Linked DNA regions of Homo sapiens: region 1 is linked to region 2. Evidence: fine-mapped expression QTL. Tissue or cell type: unexposed skin. Region 2 holds a variant in brackets; the other region holds the start of a gene. All regions are shown on one strand. Distances are between the middles of the regions.

Region 1 (10,154 bases), 29 kb after region 2:
CTCAGCTCATATAGTAACACATACCACTTGGGGATGGTTCTCCCTGGCCTAAGCCAGAGCTGGGGCCTGAGTCTCAAAGGGAAGTGAGGTACTGCCCTACCACCCTCCCGGACCACAGGCCCCAGGGGCCCTCTGATGGGGCCTCCTGAATTTTGGGCCAGGCTCTAGACTTACCTCTAACAGCCCTGTCCCACTCAGAAGTGCCTGGGGCCCAGGCAGAGTTCTCTCATTTCCTGAAGCAGCCAGGGAAAAGGGTGGTTTGTGGGGAAGTGGGAGAGGGAGCCCCTAGCACGCCCCTCTGGAGTAGGCTCCAGAAACACATTTATTTTTAAACAAGCAGCAGCAAGTCAGCGGTCAAAAGCAGAGGCTTTGGAGACTGACAGGGTTCAGATCGCCTGCCTATGTGATTTGAACCACATACTCCCTGGCCAAGAGGCCTCAGACAGTCTAATCTGACACAGCTCATTTCCTCTGCTGTAAAAAGCAGAACAGGCATACCTTGCAAGATTATCGTAAAACCTAGAGATAACCTGTAAAGTGTCCAGCACACAGTAGATGTTCAATAAGTCGTAGTTATAAAGAAGATGAAATGGAGGAGGGACACAGTGAGAAAGGACACGGTAGCCTATGGATGTGCCTCTTGGAAAGTTACGGATCTGCTGAACCACCAGACACATGAACTGGCTTCAAAGGCCAGGCCCCAGAGATCAAGTTTCCATTCCCGGCCCAGCCCCAGGCACTATGGCCACGTAAACATATTATCAAATGAAAGGACATATCCATAGGACAATGTCAGAGCTGGCAAGGACCGTAAAGGCCATCAACGCCACCTAGTCAGCTCCCTGTATTATAATTAAGGACAACTGAAGCCTAGAGGGGCAAAAGTAATCAGTTAATGTCCCATGGCCAAAAGCCACAGTTACAACTCAAGTCTCCAAACTGCCCATCAAGGAGCTCTTCTCAGCCCAGTCAGCACTTGTGAGGGTCACGTACCCAGTGGCCAGGGTTTGGTCACACAGGCAGGCCCACCACACACTACACAGGCTTTCTGGGAGCACACTCACAAGACACATGCCTTCACCACGGGCAGGTATGTGTCAAGAAATGCTCCCTAATCACTCACTCACCAGCTCATCTGTCACCTCAAAACTCTCAAGTCTCTCTCCTGCCCCCAGGGCTCACTCTGCTCTCCCTCTGCTACTTGCCCAGGTAGGTTTGGCTCCATGGTGGGGAGTGCCCACATATGGGCATGGGGAGGACAGAGGGCACTGCTTCTCTGGGGCAAAAGGGAGGGTGGGAAAGTGTCCTGCTGTGGGACTGGTAGGATAAATAATTCAAATGCTCTACACAGCCATCAAATCTGCTTTTCCATGAGTACTCAATAAAAGGAAAATTCTGAAGGCATAACAGAAAAAACAGGATACACAAACTTCACCTACGGTTCCCTCCCTCTATTGTTTTAATAGATAAATATGCATATGTGAACAGTGTGGAAGGAAATGCATGTTAAGAGTGGTTATCTCAGCCCAGCGCAATGGCTTATGCTTGTAATACCAGCATTTTGGGAGGCCAAGGTTGGCGGATCACCTGAGGTCAGGAGTTTGAGACCAGCCTGGCCAACATGGTGAAACCCCGCCTCTAATAAAAATACAAAAATTAGCTGGGAGTGGTGGCAGGCACCTGTAATCCCAGCTACCCAGGAGGCTGAGGCAGGAGAGTCGCTAGAACCCGGCAAGCAGAGGTTGCAGTTAGCTGAGATCATACCATCGCACTCCAGCCTGGGCAACAAGAGTGAAACTCCATCTCAAAAAAAATTTTTTTTCCCTAATTTTCTAGAATAAACATGAATTACTTTTATTTTAAAAAGAGTCCAGTAAGTTTCTGGTTAAGGTACAGCAGAATGGTGGACACCCTTTGAATTGTTCTTCCCGTTCTAGAATTTTCACAAAGATGAACAAGCAGCCCATTCTCCCACTCAGTGAAGAGGCTCTCAAGAAATGATCTCCCTCACTGACATCTGATCTTTCCTGAGGACTGATGTGAAACCATTTTTTTTTTTTTGAGATGGAGTTTTGCTCTTGTTGCCCAGGCTGGAGTGCCATGGCCCGATCTCGGCTCACTGCAACCTCCGCCTCCTGGGTTCAAGCGATTCTCCTGCCTCAGCCTCCTGAGTAGCTGGGATTACAGGCATGTGCCACCACGCCCGGCTAATTTTGTATTTTTAGTAAAGATGGGGTTTCTCCATGTTGGTCAGGCTGGTCTCAAACTTCCGACCTCAGGTGATCCACCCACCTCGGCCTCCCAAAGTGCTGGGATTACAGACATGAGCCACAGCACCCAGCCTGAAATCATTCTTTTCTCCAGACATTAACATGATGGTCATCCCATCTCCAGGATTGGAGCCCAGTGGAAAATGTTCCTCTCGGGGCCTCTCAGCCTCACCCCCGCCTTTCCGCAGCTGTGGCAGCTGGGAATAGAACAGGTGGGAATACTTGCAGAAATATTTGCTGTCTTATCAGTCCCCAACTAAACAGTGTCCGAAAGTCAAAGCAACAGCTGAAAACCCGCCAGAGATGTTTTCATTAGACACACTGCATGTGACCTACACACACTGCTTTGGTTTCTTTAAAAAAATTTTGTTTGTTTGTCAGGAAGTTGCTCATGGGGACTCCACAAAACTTTCCCAGCAGTAGTGGAGAGACACGGGTAGGAGTTGAATACAGGAACCTCCTGCGCAAAAACTCAAGAGATAAAGACAGTGTAGCCAGCTATGTTCAAATCCTGGTGCTTAAAGCACTGAAGCCACATAACTGGACTAGCTGCTTAACTCCCTGAACTTGTTTCCTCTTCTGTAAAAAGGTAATAATAAACTATTTCAGTGTCATTGAAATTCTTAAGATCTTAAATTCTAATATTCTGTACAAGATAGCTTTTTATTATGACCAACTCATAAGCGAGATATATGTCATTATTAACATCGATAACAGAGAAAGGCCAAAGTAGGCAAGAGGCAAACCCCCCTTGGGGGGACGGTGAGCAGCTACGGAGGGGAGACAGGTGTGACATTATGCACCACAGCTCCAGGCACCCCAGCAGCAGCCCCTAGCCCTTGCTCCTCCTCCTCCTTGCTGCTCTTTCAAATAGACAGGAACAAGCCACTCACTCCCCACATGTGAACATGCTGGACTCAAGACTTGGCACATGGGCACTTCAACACCAAAGGGTACAGAGTTTTCCCCAAAAACCTGATACATCCATCCCACTTCAAAGCAACATGCCCCCAAGCCCTCACTCCAGTCTCTGCCCTGGAACCCAAGGCTCAACGTGGGCGTCGTGAGGACGCAGCTCTGAGGTGGGGCCAAGAACCAGGCCCCTTCTGCACCTGCGCCAGTCACCGGCTGCCCACAACCACATTCAGGAGAGAAGAACCTGAGGCTCACACACCTGAAGCAGCTTATCCCGAGACTCCAATTACCGCCAAAGGTCTTGGCTGAAGGCCTTGGAGGCTCAGGTGTCTGCAGAATTGGCTACAGAGGCATCAGAGGCTTCCTTACTGGAAGCTGGGGTCGGTCCTAATCAAGTTACTTCGTAGACAGCCTTGGCAACCCCAGGCTGTCGCTTCTGAGTTAAGTTAGTCTACAATCGTCTCTATGGAATGCTCTCAGGTTCTCCATTTGTAAATAGGGATGCAGTTACTTCACTCAACACCGTTCATACCTTTCAAAGGGAATACTTATTAAGGCAATAAACAGGGGTGAGGTCTGCTCGGAGGGATGGACAGCAGATCTAGAAGCCAGGACACTGGGGTCGAAGCCTGGCTCTGCTATATCGTACCTGGGCGACCTTGGGAAAAGTCACTTTAGCTCTGTGGCCTCAGTTTCTTCATCAGTAAAATTCAGAGGGGGGACTAGCTTCTGTCTCAGGTTCCTTCAGCTCCAAAAGCTTGCTTCTGGCTGTCTCCTCACTGCTGGAAATGCCTGATAAAACAGCCAAACACCGCTGCTAACAGAAACCGGCTCTAGGCTTGAGCCTGCGGCCCTGCCCCTCACGTGCGGGCAGAGCCCCCGCGCGCCTCCTTCCCGGGGAAAGCATGCCCAGGACCCGGTGCTAGAGGCCGAATGGACTCGGCGCAACGGAGGTCTCCGGCGAGAGAGAAGAAGAACAAAACGCCCCCGCCTGCTACACGCCTCAGAGACCCACGTGCACCGCTCCTTTAAATGCACCGGCCCTTTAACCGCTCGCGCCGCGCCCACCCCCAGCCGGGGCTCGGCGGCAGGCGGGCGCAGGGAAGTGGGGACGCAGTGAGGCCGAAGGCCTGAGGGCCGCTCCCCGCGATCCTTCCACGACCCAGTTCCGGGCCGGCCCAGCCGCCGCCTGCCGGGCACTCTCCTCTCTCCGCCCCCGCGCTGGCCGCAGAGGCCAGGAGCGCTGCGCACGCAGGGGCCGCAGACCCACAGCCGGGGAAGGGACCGTGGCCAGAGGCGTGCGGAGGGCAGGGCAGGGCCCTCAGGGCGCAGCCCCACCCCGGGCCCTCAGCGCCGCAGGCGACAGGGCCCTGGCCTGGGCACCCCCCGGCACCGCCCGCTCACCTGCTCTGCCGCCGCGCTCCAGCGGAGTTTACGCAGCTGGCTGAGCGCCCGGCCGGACCCGGCGCCGGCCCAGGCCCCGCCCCACGCCCGCCCAGGCCACGCCCGGTGGGCGACGCCGCGTTCCCTCGTCCACTGGGGCCCCACCTGGAGTCCCGGGCGCGCGGGGAGGGTGGCCTTCACGCCGCGTGGATGACAGGGTCATCCCGACGTCGGAACTAAGCGACGACCTTAGAAGGAGTGGAGGCCGGGCCTGTCATCTTCCTGCGGGCCTGGCAGCAGCGTGGGGCGGTAGGACATAGGCTTCGAGGACACTCTTTCTTGTAGTTTTGGGTCCACATCCCCTCCTCCTCCCGGTTGTTCTCACATTAAAGGAGCACTAATGGCCCAATGTGAGCTAACACCATGAGAATGTTCCTGGTCTGTTCCCTAGGGCGCTTCAGAGCCACCAGGAGCTCTGCATAAAATTGAACAGGAATAAATTGCTGCCTGACCTGAGAATTGGCCTAGGGGGTTGTGGTTCCAGGATTTGGGGTCTGTGGGGTAGGTTGAGATTGTCAATAATTTGGCGTTGTCTGAGTAGTTTTACTTTTTTTTTTTTAACTTAAGGTGAAATTCACATAACATAAAATTTACCATTTTAAAGTGGGCATTTCAGTGGCATTTAGTGAATTCACAATGCTGTGCAACCACCACCTCTGTCTAGTTCCAAAACATTTTCCTCATTCCGAAAGAAAAACCCCATACCCATTGAGAAGTTTCTTCCCAATGCCCTCTTCCCCCCCAGCCCCTGGCAATTACCAGTCTACTTCTGTCTCTATATTTACTTACTTTAGATACTTCATATAAACGGAATCACAGTGTGTGGACTTTTGTGTCTTTCACTTAGCATGTTTTCGAGGTTCATCCTCAGGTAGCATGTAACAGACTTTATTCCTTTTTATGACTGAATAGTGTTTGTGTGTGTATATGTATATGTGTGTGCGTGTGTGTGTGTGTATCATGTATGCCACAGTTTATTCATCTATGGACATTGGGGCTGTTTGCATCTTTTGGCTTTGTGAATAATGCTACCATGAACATGCATGTACATGTATTTGTTTGAGAGCCCATTTTTATTTGGGGAGGGTACATACATAGGGGTTGAATTGTTGGATCGCATGGTAATTCAATTTTTTTTTTTTTTTGAGACAGAGCCTTGCTCTGTTGCCCAGCCTAGAGTGCAGTGGCCGCAATCTTGGCTCACTGCAACCTCTGCCTCCCAGGTTCGAGCAATTATCTTGCCTCGGCCTCCTGAGTAGCTGGAGTTACAGGTGTGTGCCACCACATCTGGCTAATTTTTGTATTTTTAGTAGAGATGGGGTTTCCCCATGTTGGCCAGGCTGGTCTTGATCCTGAACTCAAGTTATCTGCCTGCCTTGGCCTCCCACAGTGCTGGATTATAGGCATGAGCCACCGTGCCCAGCCTTCAGTGTTTAACTATTTGGGGAACCCCAAGTGGTTTCCACGATGGCTGAACCATTTTATATTCCTACCAGCAATGTACAGGATCCCAATTTCTCCACATCCTCACCAACACTTGTTATTTTCCATTTTATTGTTATCCTAGTAGGTGTGCAGCGGTACCTCATTCTGGTTTTGGTTTACATTTTCCTAATAACTAATGCTATTAAGCATTCTCCTTTTCATGTGTTTGTTGGCCATCTGTATATCTTCTTTGGAGACATGCCTATTCAAGTCCTTTGCCCATTTTAAAATTGGGTTGTCTTTTTGTTGTTGGGTTGTAAGAGTTCTTTATATATTCTGGACACTAGACCCTTATCAGATATATGCTTTGCAAATATTTCTCTCCCATTCTGTAATTGTCTTTTTCACTTTCTGATGTCCTTTCATGCACATAAAACTTTAATTTTGATGAACTTCAGCTTAACTGTTTTTTCTTTTGTTGTTTGTGCATTTGGTGTCCTGTGTGAGATATCATTGTCAAATCCAAGGTTGTGAAGATTTACTCCTGTGTTTTCTTCTAAGAGTTTTATAGTTTTAGCTCCTATATTTAGGTTGTTGATCCATTTTAAGATAATTTTTGTATGTAGTGTGAGGTTAGGGTCCAAGTTCATTGTTTTGCATGTGGACTTCTAGTTGTCCCAGCACCATTCGTTGAAGAGATTGTCCTTTTCCTATTGAATTGTCTTGGCTTCTTGTCAAAAATCAATTGGCCATAGATGGATGGGGAAAACCAAATATTTTCAAAGAGCTGTTTAAATGCAGATTAACCCTGGATGGAACTGGGGCAGGCCAGCATTTTGGCTAAGAAAATAATGGTCCAAATAATGATCTTTGATAAATTTGAGAAATTAATTACATTTAACAGAATTATAAAAATAATCGATTCTTGGAAAAGGAAGGACACCTGAAGGTCACAAAGTCCAACTCTAACTGATGCATATGAGCCCTTGCTACAGAATTCCTGGGAAATAACTCCCCAACCTGGTTTGTTGTTGTTGTTGTTTTGAAACAGGGTCTTGCTTTTTCGCCCAGGCTGGAGTGCAGTGGCACGATCTCAGATCACTGCAACCTCTGCCTCCCAAGTTCAAGTGATTCTCTTGCCTCAGCCTCCCAAGTTAGCTGGAATTACAGGTATGTGCCACCCTGCCCAGCTAATTTTTGTAATTTTAGTAGAGAGGGGGTTTTTGCCATGTTGACCAGGGTGGTCTCGAATTCCTGACCTGAAGTGACCCTCCCGCTTCGGTCTCCTGAAGTGCTGGGATTAGATTACAGGCATGAGCCACCGCGCCCATCCCTGATTGGTTGTTGTTGTGTTGTTGTTATTTAGCTTTCAGTGTTGCACTTGATAGGCTGAATTTCCCCTAATGTGAAGAGGCTGCATATGCCCTAAGGTGAAGCATAATGACTCAATAAATGAGTTAGGAAGTTGTGATATAATAAAAATAAATATTTGGTCTTTATCCCCGTTCCTGGCACAAGCTTCTAAAACCTTTGGAATCTCAGGTGTGATGAATGTTGTTGGTATGCTAATGAAATGACTGGTGGCTGGGGACCCCTGACTAGCTTCAGGATAGGGGCTGGTGGCCAGAAAGACTAAGGCATGATCTAAACAAACAGAAGACTGCAGCCCTTAATAAGCATTAACAGGATCTGATTTCCAGAGTTACCACATTATAATATTCAAAATGCCCAGGTTTTTTTTTCTTTCAATCAGCTTTTTCAGGTTGAAGTGCCCAGTTTTTGTTTTTTTTTTTTTTTTTGAGACAGAGACTCCCACTGTCACCAGGGCTGGAGTGCAGTGGCGCGATCTCAGCAGCCTGCAACCTCCACCTCCCAGGTTCAAGCGATTCTCCTGCCTCAGCCTTCCGAGTTGCTGGGATTACAGGCACCCACCACCACACCCAGCTAATTTTTTGTATTTTTAGTAGAGACAGGGTTTCATTATGTTGGCCAGGATGGTCTCGAATGCCTGACCTTGTGACCCACCCACCTCGGCATCCCAAAGTGCTGGGATTACAGGCGTGAGCCACCATGCCAGGCCCGAAGTGCCCAGTTTTTAACCAAAAAGTAAATAAATAAATAAAATAGGAAGCATACCAAGAAAAAAGAAAAGTACAACCCATTCACAGGAAAAAGAAATTGATAGAAACCATCCCTGGGGAGGCCTAGACATTGAACTTGCTAGACAAAGACTTTTATTTAAATGTTTAAAAGTTTACTTAAACGTTTATTTAAATGGTCTTAAATATGCTTAACTAACTAAAGGAAACCATGGACAAAGAACTAAAGGAAGCCAGGTAAACAATAAATGTATAAACAGAATATCAGCAAAGAGACAAATTATGAAAAATAAACCAAATCAAAATTCTGGAGCTGAAAAGTACAATAGCTGAAATGAAAATTTTGAAAAGATGAACAACACTGACAAATCTTTAGCTAGACTGAGAAATAAAGAGTAAAGATGCAAATAACTAAAATCAGACATGAAAGTAGGGGCATCACTATGGACCTTACAGGAAAAAAAAAAAAAAGCATTTTAAGTGAATACTGTGAACAACTGTACACAAATGACCAAAACTGACTCAGGAAGAAATAAATCTGAACAAGCTAGGAAAAGTAAAGAGATTGAATCCAATAAGAGGTTGAATCAGTAAGGCCAGGCACGATGGCTCAAGCCTGTAATCCCAGCACTTTGGGAGGCTGAGACGGGCAGATCACGAGGTCAGGAGATTGAGACCAGCAGATCACGAGGTCAGGAGATTGAGACCATCCTGGCTAACACGGTGAAACCCCATCTCTACTAAAAAAAAAAAAAAAAAAGCCGGGTGTGGTGGCAGGCGCCTGTAGTCCCAGCTACTCAGGAGGCTGAGTCGGGAGAATGGCATGAACCCGGGAGGCGGAGCTTGCAGTGAGCCGAGATTGAGCCACTGCATTCCAGTCTGGGTGACAGAGCGAGACTCCATCTCAAAAACAAACAAAAAAAAAAAAGGTTGAATCAGTAATCAAAAACCTCCCCTAAAGCAGGACCAGATGGCTTCAGCTTGGTGAATTTTCTGCCAAACCTTTAAAGAAAAATTAACACCAATTCTCAAACTCTACTAAGAAATAGAAGAGGAGGGAATACTTCTCTGAACTATTTTTTCTCACAACACTTCTGACACCAAGTGTGTGGTTTTTTTATTCCACACAAAAACAATTCTCCAGACACCAAGTGTGTGTCCTACAATTCAATTCAATTCTGATAATATGTACCTGAAGTTAGCAGAAGCTCCCCAGACGTAGCCATTTGGGGGTGTTTATGGAAGTTTTATTGCGTAGGCACCATTGATTGATCAACATCATTGGCCATAAAATCATTGACCCAGGAGGTCAAGGGGTAGGGCTGAACAGTCCAGCCCTCTTTGCCTGGCAAGTTCAATGTCTAGGCTTCCTCACGGATGGCTTCTGTCAGTTTCTTTTTCCTGTGAATGGGTTATACTTTTCTTTTTTTCTTGGTATGCCTTCTAATTTTTTTTGCTGCTGTTAAAAACGACATTTCAACCTGAGGAAGCTGATTGAAAGAAAAAAACTGGTCATTTTGAATATTATAATGTGATAACTCTGGAAATCAGATTCTTTGCCCTTTGCAAGATTTGCTGTTATTGCTTATTAAGGGCTGCAGTCTTCTTTGTTTAGTGACATTTCCATATGATTTTTGCAGACTGCATTCTTTATATGTAGACACTGAAGTCTTTGATCTGTTACCTCAGTGGTCAGCCACAGTTGACACAGATTTCCTTAAATACCTGGACTAAAAACACCTGGACCAAACACAAAAGAAAAATCTTCTGATCTTGGCAGATTGGCTCTGAGCTGAGGCATTCCTTAGACACTTAGCCAAGCCACTCTTTCCATTTTCCCTAGACTTTACCTCCTGCTTGCATGGAATACAAAGATCAGCCACAGGTGCAAGCCTAGGGTCCTCTTAGATCTTTTCTGAGCATGTGTCCAGCCCTGGACATGTGCATTGCAGCCTGGGTTCCCTGGTATATGCAGTAGCCCTTCAACGACCTTCTTTCCCCA
Region 2 (10,003 bases):
CTTTGCCTGCGGCTTTCATCCTGGTGGTCGCTAAGCAGCTGTGACATCTCAAAGCATCACATCTGTGTCCCATGCAAGGAAAAAATGGCAGATTATGGCTGAGGCGCCCCTCCCCGCCTTTAAAACCAGGAGAACAATAGCTTTTCTGGAAGACCCAAGCACTAGACTTTGGCAGAGCTGAGTCACATGGCCACTCCTAAGTGCCCAGGACCCTGGGAGGTGAGCAGTGCTAAATATGCAGGAGGACACCCTGAGCACAGCAGGATCTGCTAGGAGGGATACTGGGGAAGGCAACTCGCTTGTGAAAGCCACGTGAATGGATAGGATCACACTGGGAAGAGAGGAGGAGCAAGCAGAGAAGAGGAATGAGAACTGAGCCCTGAAAATGTGCATCTAGGGTAAAAGCAGAGCAGCAGCTGGAAAATGGCCAAGGAATGAGCAGGAGGAGGGAAGAAGAGTAGGAGGAAACTGCCAAACAAAATAAAATTGGAGCTGGGTGCGGTGGTTCATGCTTGAATCCCAGCGCTTTGGGAGGTTGAGGCTGGACAATCACTTAAGGCCAGGAGTTCCAGACCAGCCTGGGCAATATAGCAAGACCCTGTCTCGACAAAAATTAAAAAAAATTAGCAAGGCATGATGGTGCATGCATGTAGCCTCAGTTGAGGCAGGAGGATTGCTTGAGCCCAGGAATTCGAGGTTGCAGTGAGCTATGATCATGCCACTGCATTCCAGCCTGGGTGACAAAGCGAGACACTGTCTCTAAAAAAATTAATTTTTAGGAACTGGATTTAGTAAGGAGAGACTTTATTCAAAAGGATTATTGCAAGGATAGGAAGGGGCAGGAAAGGAGATCATTGCAAATAGGGGGAACCTCTGACTGTTAAGATCTTCCAGAGTCTCAAGATCTAGGCAAACACGTTTTCTGGTTTTGTTTTTTTAATAGGGGAGTAAACACGACCAGAAAGAACAGATGTGGGGAAGTGGAATGGAAGGGCAGCAGGATCAGGTAGATCAGAGGATGTTCGACTCTGGGGCCAACCTCTTCTCCAGAGGGGATGTCTGCCGACTCAGGAAAGTTTAGGGACCTGGGGAAAGGAGGGAAGTTTGGTTAATGAGCATTTTATTCCGATTAATCAGTGGGGAAAAGCAGCTCAGCTAATCATTTAGAAGACTAAGAATGGGAATTTGGAGGGTCTGTGTGTGTGCTCTTGTCATAATTAAACAAGGGAGACATCTAAGAGGCCTAAGTGCTCTGGGAAGATGGCTCTTTGCAGGAAGCTGTCTGCTAGAACACAAAGCATGGGGGGTTTTCTTAACCTTGGCTGTTTCCAGAAGCAAGGGCTGAGACAAAATCCAACATTTTCAGAACCAACAGAGACAGGGTGTCATGAAAGGCTTGGAGAAGAAAGTATTTCAAAATCGAGACCACCCATTGTTAGAGTAAGTCATGCTGGAGTCAAAAAGAAAAAATCAAAAAATGAAAGAAAAAAACTCAGTGTTTTAGTATGAGAATGTTATTACAATTTTTAAAAATTTATTTTGATAATTTCAAGCCTATAGAAAGGTTGCAGGAATAGTACAAATAATTCTTCCTGATTCCCCAAATATTTTACTACGTTTGTTTCTCCATGTGTGTGTGTTCAGCCTCTCAGGTTTCTGTTCCCCTCCGAGTAGGCTCTGGAGTACTGGAGGGTGGGGTAGGCAGAGGAGGGTGGCTCTGGGTGGCCAATTGGGGTCTCCTGGCTGTCCATCTCTGCTGGCAGCTGTAGGCCCTTGCTGGCAAGACTCGGAACCTGATTTCCTGGTTTGGTTATAACAGGTGCTTGCAAGCCAGCCCAGCCTCCCCAGCTCTCACTGACAGACCCTTGGCTCAGTGGACACCCCACCCCATTCCATTGCAGGCCTCAGAGAGGGACTGCTGGCTCTCTGCTTGGGGACCTACCACCTGCCCCCTCAGGAATGGTGGGAAACTTCTGTCTTGTGCCGTGGCTCAGAGAAGATAACCCCTGCCTACCTTCCAACCCCACTGACTTCCCTTTGGAAGATGGTACAGGATCAGGTACTGTTGAGCCTGAGACCTGACTTTCTCCCCAAATCCCAAATGGGGAGCAAGGGGAGGTCTTCCCTACCTCCTCTCTTCTCTCCATCCTCCCCATTCCCAGAACACCCCAGGGCCCACGGTAAGCCATGCCCTTACTTCCTCTAAATCAGGGGTCCCCAACCCCCAGGCCATGGACCAGTACCAGTCTATAGCCTATTAGGAACCAGGCTGCACAGCAGGTGGTAAGCGGTGGAGATGAGCATTACCACCTGAGCTCCGCCTCCTGTCAAATCAGTGGCATCGGATTCTCATAGGACCTCGAACCCCATTGTGAACTGTGCACGCCAAGGATCTAAGTGGCACACTCCACATGAGAATCTAATGCCTGATGACCTGAGGTGGAGCAGTTTCAGCTCCAAATCATCCCCCCAACCCCTATCTGTGGAAAAACTGTCTACCATGACACCAGTCCCTGGTCCCTAAAGATTGGGGACCACTGCTCTAAGTCACATCCTCCTCTCTCCATGGATGCGGCCCCTTCCCTACCTCCTGGGAGAAACTCTAAGGAGTCTTCTGGGTTTGAGTTTTCAAACCTACCACTCTTATTAAATGACCCAAGTCCCTACATCTCCTGCCCTGAGGTGATAAGACTCTTCCTTGGCCTTCCTTAGGGGAAAATTAAAATGCATGGGTCATTTGCAAAGTAGCAGCTTGCTACAACTGTATTTTTCTCAGAGGCCTTCTCTTCAAGAATTAATGTTATCTTCCCCTTTTTGGTCATTTTAAAAGTCATTCTCATAGGGAAATCTTTGACTTTAAATTTTAAAACTTAATAAAATGTAACAAAAGAAAGATATCTGACCAGTAAGCACATGAACAGGTGCCCAACGTCATTAGTCAGCATTAGGGAAATGCAGATCAAAGCCACGAAGAGACACCACTTCACACACACATGAATAGCTAAAATTAGACTATTTTTTATTTTTGGCAGAGATGGGGTCTTGCCATGTTGCCTAGATTGGTCTTAAACTCCTGGGCTCAAGTGATTCTCACGACTCAGCCTCCCAAGGTGCTGGGATTATAAAATCATACTTTTTTTTTTTTTTTTTTTGAGACAGTTTCGCTTTTGTCACACAGGCTGGAGTGCAATGGCGTGATCTTGTCTCACTGCAACCTCTGCCTCCCTGGTTCAAGTGATTCTTCTGTCTCAGCCTCCTGAGTAGCTGGGATTACAGGTGCCCGCCACCACGCCCAGCTAATTTTTGTACTGTTAGTAGAGACGGAGTTTCACCATGTCGGCCAGGCTGGTCTCGAACTCCTGACCTCAGGTGACCCGCCCACCTCGGCCTCCCACAGTGCTGGGATTACAGGTGTGAGCCACCGTGCGTAGCCTGTTGGGTGTTTTGAGTGGCCTCGACAGGAAGATGGCAGCCCATGCTTGTTATCAATTACACACTGCAGGGAGGACCTATTTCTGCTAGTCAAGAGCACCTATTCTACAAACCACATACCGTGGGCTTATATACTAACTACTCCCTGCTTGATTTTGGGCAAGTCAGTGATCTCTGTGCCTTAGTTTCCTCATCTATAAAATGGAAATTAGAATAGTAGTTACCTCCTATTGTTACGAGAATTGAAGGTAAACTCATTTAGTGCGAGCCTAGCACAAGGTTGGCACTGGGTAAGGGTTTGCTACTGTCACTGTTACTCTCTACAGAGTCCACAACCACTGTCTCGAGGTCCTTCCTAAGGTGTCCAGTGTTGCACACAGCAACACAGCACTTCTGCTTATATTCAGTTGGCCATTAGTCACATGTACTGACAAGTATCTCCCTGGCTGCCTTCAGGGAGCTCTTGGCCAATGTCCTAAAAGCTTCCCCACAGCTTTCTGGCCATTCACTCAGACCGGACCCTTCCTCCCTACCACCATTCAAAGCTGTCCCAAAATCCACGGTCCCTCACAACACCTTTCTCAAGTAGCTGAAAGAAAGGCAGTGGTTACAGGACCCTTCCTTCTCAGCGGGTGACCACAGGACCCTGCCGCCCCATTCGACTCACATAAGCATAAAACACATCACCGAATCACAAACTGCAGGCATGCTTCTACTTTGCATAGTTTCATCGGCTTGCAATCCACATAGACTGTGCTGTCAGGCATGAAAATTGTCCACAGAGGGGGCAGGGGGGTGCACATGGATCTGCACCTCATCCTTGGTCACTCTAAGCCACTCGCAGGCATTCTGTAGAGAGCCAATGGTGGCAGCGGTGGGGGGCAGAGGGTCTCCTAACCACTGACCATTCTGACTGCTGGTCCAGCTCCATCACCTTCCCCTCATTTTAACCCCAGGATGGAGGTCTACCTTAATCCCCACTGCTGTCATCTGCTGCCTCCCGGGGCCCATTTCCACCGTCTTTGAAGACATCAGCTTGTGATTCACATGATCCCTCACGACCCCATTTTCTCATTGTTTTGGTAACTTCATTATCTGCATTGGTAAACCAAAAGACACGCCATAACCACGTATCCCTTATCTTGTTTAGGTGGATATATGGCCACTTGAAATAAAGACATTTCCCAGTCTCTCAGTCTCAGACAGGTATGGCCGTGGGACTAATGGCCAATTGAATATAGGCAAAAGTGCTGTGTGCAACTTTGAGACATGTTTTTAAGAAGAGGAAATGCACCCTTTTCTAACCTCCTTTCATGCTGGATGGAGTGTGACTTGACGGCTAGCACACAGCAGCCAGCCTAGGTCATGAGGTGAAAGCCACTTACTGATCTCAAAGGAAAAAGAGGCATCTGACCCCTGATACCATGCACTATTGCACCCTCTCCAAGCTGCCTGTGCCTGTGAAAGGATTCTAGCCCATCTTGTTTAAACCACTGCAGTGACCTAACCCTTACTGACTCCCACCACCATTCCACACTATTATACTTCTGTAGCTTTATACTGTTTTAGGAGATCCAGTGTAACTTCAGATTTACATACCCTCTGCCTCTAGCATCTCAGGAACAGAAACTCTCAGGACAGGCCCCATCTTCTCCTTTCACCACCTAAGTTTCTCTGCTTCAATCACCTGGTGAGGCATTGGCCTGCGAGAGAGCAAGTTCTATTAACAGTAGAGAGCTCAGGAACCCATCCACCCACTTATGGAAACTTGGTATATGTCAGGAGAGTTCTACAGACCAGCGAGAAAGGAGAGACTGTTCAGTAAACAGTGCTGGGACACCTGGTTACAAAGAAAAACAAAATTAGGTCCCTACTAAATACAATCATAAAAATACATTTCAGATGAACTAAAAATCTTATTATGAAAATAAAAATTTAGAAAACCTTGAGGGTAGGGAAGGATCTCTTAAAACAAGATTCAATGGCATAAGCCATACAAGCAAAAAACTGATAGATTTAATAACATTAACATTTAAAAATTACTTGGGTCCAGCAAAACACTCCTAAAGGCAGGGAAGAGAGGCAAGCCACAATGTACCAGACATTTGCAATGCATATAATTAATCAAAGATTAGCATCTCTCCAGAATATATATTTTAAGAGGCTTAAATATCCGTAAGACAAAAAATCCAAGTGAAAAATGGGCAGAGGATATGAACAAGTAACAGAGAAGGAAACTTGGGCTGGGCGCAGTGACTCACACCTGTAATCCCAGCACTTTGGGAGGCCGAGGCGGGTGGATCACGAGGTCAGGAGATCGAGACCCTCCTGGCTAACACGGTGAAACCCCATCTCTACTCAAAATACAAAAAAACTAGCCGGGCGTGATGGCAGGCACCTGTAATCCCAGCTACTCAGGAGGCTGAGGCAGGAGAATGGCATGAACCCGGGAGGCGGAGCTTGCAGTGAGCCAAGATCACGCTGCTGCACTCCAGCCTGGGCGACAGCGCGAGACTCTGTCTAAAAAAATTAATAATAATGAACAGAGAAGGAACCTTGTACAGCCAATACACATATGAAAAGATAATTATAAAACCTAAAGGAAATGACACCCATCCAATCAGACAAGATGAAAAGTCTGATGACACCAAGTATTATAGAGTTGGGGAACTCTCAGATTGCGGATGGAAGGATAAACAGACACATACTTGGAGGGTAATTGGGAATGTCCAGTCAATTGGGGGAATTCCAATACTTCCTCAAATCCACACAATGTGATGGGATGCTCACTGCAGCACAGCTGTAATACAGAAACACTGCAAAACCCCTACAGGTCGATCAATAGCATATAAACAGTAGAACTCATACAATGGAACACTATACAATAGTTAAAATAACTGGGCTGGGCACGGTGGCTCACGCCTGTAATCCCAGCACTTTTGGAGGCCAAGGTGCGTGGATCACCTGCAGTCAGGAGTTTGAGACCAGCCTGGCTAACGTGGTGAAACCCCGTCTCTACTAAAATACAAAATTAGCCAGGCATGGTGGCGGGCAACTGTAATCCCAGCTACTCAGGAAATTGAGACAGGAGAATTGCTTGAACCCAGGAGGCAGAGGTTGCAGTGAGCCAACATCACGCCATTGCACTCTAGCCTGGGTGACAAGAGCAAAACTCCATCTCAAAAAATAAATAAAATAAATGAACTGGAGCTACATTTATACATGCCTCCAGAATGCAATATTTTAAAAAATTATCAAATATGTACAGTATGATACCATTTCTGTAAAGTTAAGAAAACATGCCAACATACAAAACAAAACTAACCATAGATGAGAAGGGCAGAAATCGACTTCAGGACAGGAGGCGGAGGCAACAGGACTGGGGCCACATAC[A/G]AACAGGACTTCAGAACGTGGGTTTTATTTCTAAAGACAAATCTGGAGCAAATATGGAAAGATATTAGTTGACGGGTTACACGGGGGAGATACAGGTGTTTGAACACCAGTACCCTGCTCTTGTTCGGCATGTTCGAATGCTGTCTTTTACAAATTCTCTCATTTTTCTTCTTTGCCATTTGTGTTCTGGGTTCATTTGTCTCCCTGCTCTCTGGGGACCTCCAAGTAGCATCTCCTCCAGTGTCTTTGTTCTCTCCAATGCTCTTCCCTCGTCTTCTCACATGTCCTTGTTTTCTCAGTCTTAACACTTCACCCTAACCATCACCAGGCCCCTTCATTTCTTCCTCCCTCGCTGTCTACTTAAGGGCCCCCAATTTCTGCCTTTACCTCTGAATGTGGTCTCCACCCAGCAACCCTTGGCCAGGCCTTTGAAAGACCTCAAGCTTAATGATTCAAAATATATGTCCAATCCCATCTTTGGAAACCCCACCCTAAAACTGCTCTTCTGAAGATAAACACTGCCATAATTGCCAAATTGAATAAGCTTTTCAGTTTTTCTTTCCCCTTAACCTCTTGCGAGTTGTCACCATCAGGGACCATCCCTGTCTGCTTTACCCGCTCCCCGCTGTGGCTTCCATGACGGCAATGCCCCCCATCCCAGGTCTCTGACCTGCACTACTAATCAGTGGGATTCCACCCGCCAGTGTTCGGCCTCCTCTGTCCTTCCTTCTTAGGGCACCACATTTTCCTCTGCCCTTCCTCAAACAGCCTGGGGGAAAGCAAGCTCCTGTCAAATGTCAAGATACACAATTCTCATTCCTCTCATAATAAAGATGCATTGTCCCGGCACTCATGTTATTCCTGGAACAGGGAGACAGGGGTACCAGTTTGAACCCCAGGGCACACTTGCGTCTTCTCAGCTGTCTGATATACCTAACACCTGCTTGATCTCGGCTCATTGCAGCCTCAGCCTCCTGGGCTTAAGTGATCCTCCCACCTCAGCCTCCAGAGTAGCTGAGACTACAGATGCATGCCACCATGCTTGGCTAATTTTTAAATTTTTTTTTGTACAAAGTCTCACTATGTTGCCCCGGCTGGTCTCAAACTCCTGGGCTCAAGTGATCCTTCCGACTCGACCTCCCGAAGTATTGGGATTACAGGTGTGAGCCACTGTGCTCAGGAAGAGGCACTTCTGAGATTCTCTTTGCAACCCATGATTGATGTACAGAGAAGGCAAAGCCAAACTGTCCACTCTCCCACCACAGTGCCCAGGGCCAAAGCCAGAGAAGGAAAGGAGAGTGGTTTCTGAGCTCAGGCCCTCACAGGCTTCTGCAGAGGGTGAACACTTGCTGAAGGAACCACTGGATGTTTTGGCAACCACCTGGCAGTGTCTGTGCCACCGTGCACAACTGAGTCCAGGGACCTGCTCAGCATCCACAGCCTTACAGCTCAGGGCTGGCAGATGTCAGGCCACCCTGCTCTCCTAACTCCTTTGCTTAGGAAACTTTCTAGTTAAAGAAATGTGTGCAGAGAGGCGAGATCATTAAAAGTTCCTTCAAACAGGGCAAACTGCCTCCATCCTGGGCTCACAGCACAAGTTATCCCAGGGGTGCCCAAGATGCAGGGAGAGGGGTCAACATTTACAACGGACCAAACTCCAAGATTCTAACAGGACTCATCTATTTATTGATATTACTATTAAGCCACTTCCCAGCAGTGTGACTGCCGTAACAAGAACAGGACTCAGTTTCTAAAGGCAATAAAATAACAAGGACATCATGGACAAAGCATTGGGAACACTCCTCGTAGGGAACTGGCTTTTCCTCTCCAGCCAGAGCACCCAGGTGCCAGGGGCCACTCCCGAGCACACTCTTTGCGCATCTCAGCCCTCATGCCGGATGCTCTTCTCCCCGCCCTAATCTGACCTTCTCAGTTCATCTGGATAAACCTGCTGTGCTTCCTGTCCGTGAAGCGAGGCGCTCCCCAAAGCGGGAGCCAAAGTCTGGTGATGAAACAGCTGGCACCAAAGAGCTGGTTCTGCCTCCTCCTCACCAAGTAAACACGTACTTTATTTTTTAAGGAAAGAAAAGTCTTAAAAATATATGGCACTAGAGTGTAAAACTATACAACTGCATCCAATGAAAATTCCCTGCAGCTTGCAGCCTGTGGCACACCATGTCCCTCAGATGTAGAGCTGATGGGAGGCCAGGGTGTCCATGAACGGCCGCACCAGGTTGTCCGTGGAGAAGTAAAAGATGAGCCCGAACGTGATGGAGATGGGGAGGGCGGGCAGCGCCTTCTTGAACACAGCAAGCAGCAGGAGGGTCAGACACAAGCCCTGCAGGACATGGAGGGGAGGGTGAGCGTGGTGATCCCTGGTGTGGACAGGAGCTGTGAGTCATGGTCTAGTCCCTGGGCACAGGAGCTTGTTCGAGGACCAGTCGGATAACGGCGCTAGACACCCCATTATCTTCCCTGGTCCTGCAACAGCTCTTGAGGTGTTAAGGGCAGAAGTTCTCACCCCCATTAGATCACCTCACCTGTTAGTGAGTGAACCAGAAGGCAGGCCTCCTGACTCCTGGAGCAGTGCTGTGCCCCGAGGCCGTGCTGCCTCCCCTGTCTGGCTGGAGTGGTCACATGGGATGGTAAGATGCCCTCAGGGAACATGTATTTATATGAGAGCTAGGTGGGCTCAACTGAAATGGCAGTAAGGTTCTCAGCAGCTGGCACCAAGGGAATCAGAGCCGCCAGGCAACCTGCCCCTGGGAAGCAGGTGTGGGGGCTGCCCATCCTCCCCTGACCCAGCTGATGCAGGCAGTGGTCCAGGTGAGCACAGGGAACCAGGGTGCCTTCTATATCTTTGGGGCCAGCAGGGCTCAGGTAAGGCAGTCTGGTGGTGGAGGAGCCTGGGTCCACCATCCCATCCCTGATATACTTGTGGGCAAAAAGAAAACCTTCTGGACACTGGAGCATCAACCTTAATCATGCCATGCCCAGGGTTTTCACTAAGGGGCAGATGCCAAGCGCACGGCTCAGACGCTCCTCCTCCTCTAACGTGACAGCGAAATCTCTGAGATGAAGTCACGGCAGGACGTCTCCCCATTATGTGTATCTGGTCACGTTAACTGACTACAGGGCCTCCACATTTCACTGCTGTGGTTCACAGTAACGGGGCCAC

Direction of the effects. Alleles are on the strand shown, and positions count from the first base shown. SD is a standard deviation of normalised expression in the study named.
In carriers of allele G in region 2, the expression in unexposed skin of the gene that starts at base 4,623 in region 1 tends to be higher than with A alone (small effect, 0.31 SD a copy in GTEx).

What was found. PIP is the estimated chance that this variant, and not a neighbour inherited with it, causes the effect.
Region 1: PSEN2 starts here. The variant in region 2 is fine-mapped to the expression of PSEN2 in unexposed skin (GTEx, PIP 0.93).

The regions. Positions count from the first base shown.
Region 1 is chr1:226,865,085-226,875,238 of GRCh38, reverse strand. PSEN2 (presenilin 2) reads right to left here and starts at 4,623. Exons shown (of 13, transcript NM_000447.3): 1 at 4,590-4,623; 2 at 3,835-3,977. It overlaps LOC105373119 (a long non-coding RNA gene), which reads left to right and starts at 4,689. Exons shown (of 3, transcript XR_949226.4): 1 at 4,689-4,877. RefSeq lists silencers at 4,161-4,210, 4,221-4,820.
Region 2 is chr1:226,894,584-226,904,586 of GRCh38, reverse strand. It overlaps PSEN2 (presenilin 2), which reads right to left. Exons shown (of 13, transcript NM_000447.3): 13 at 8,489-9,163. The coding sequence ends at 9,008. Among named protein-coding and RNA genes, the nearest start is that of PSEN2, 29 kb to the right of the region's middle. RefSeq lists a silencer at 8,462-8,693. The variant A/G (reference allele first, on the strand shown) is at 6,826.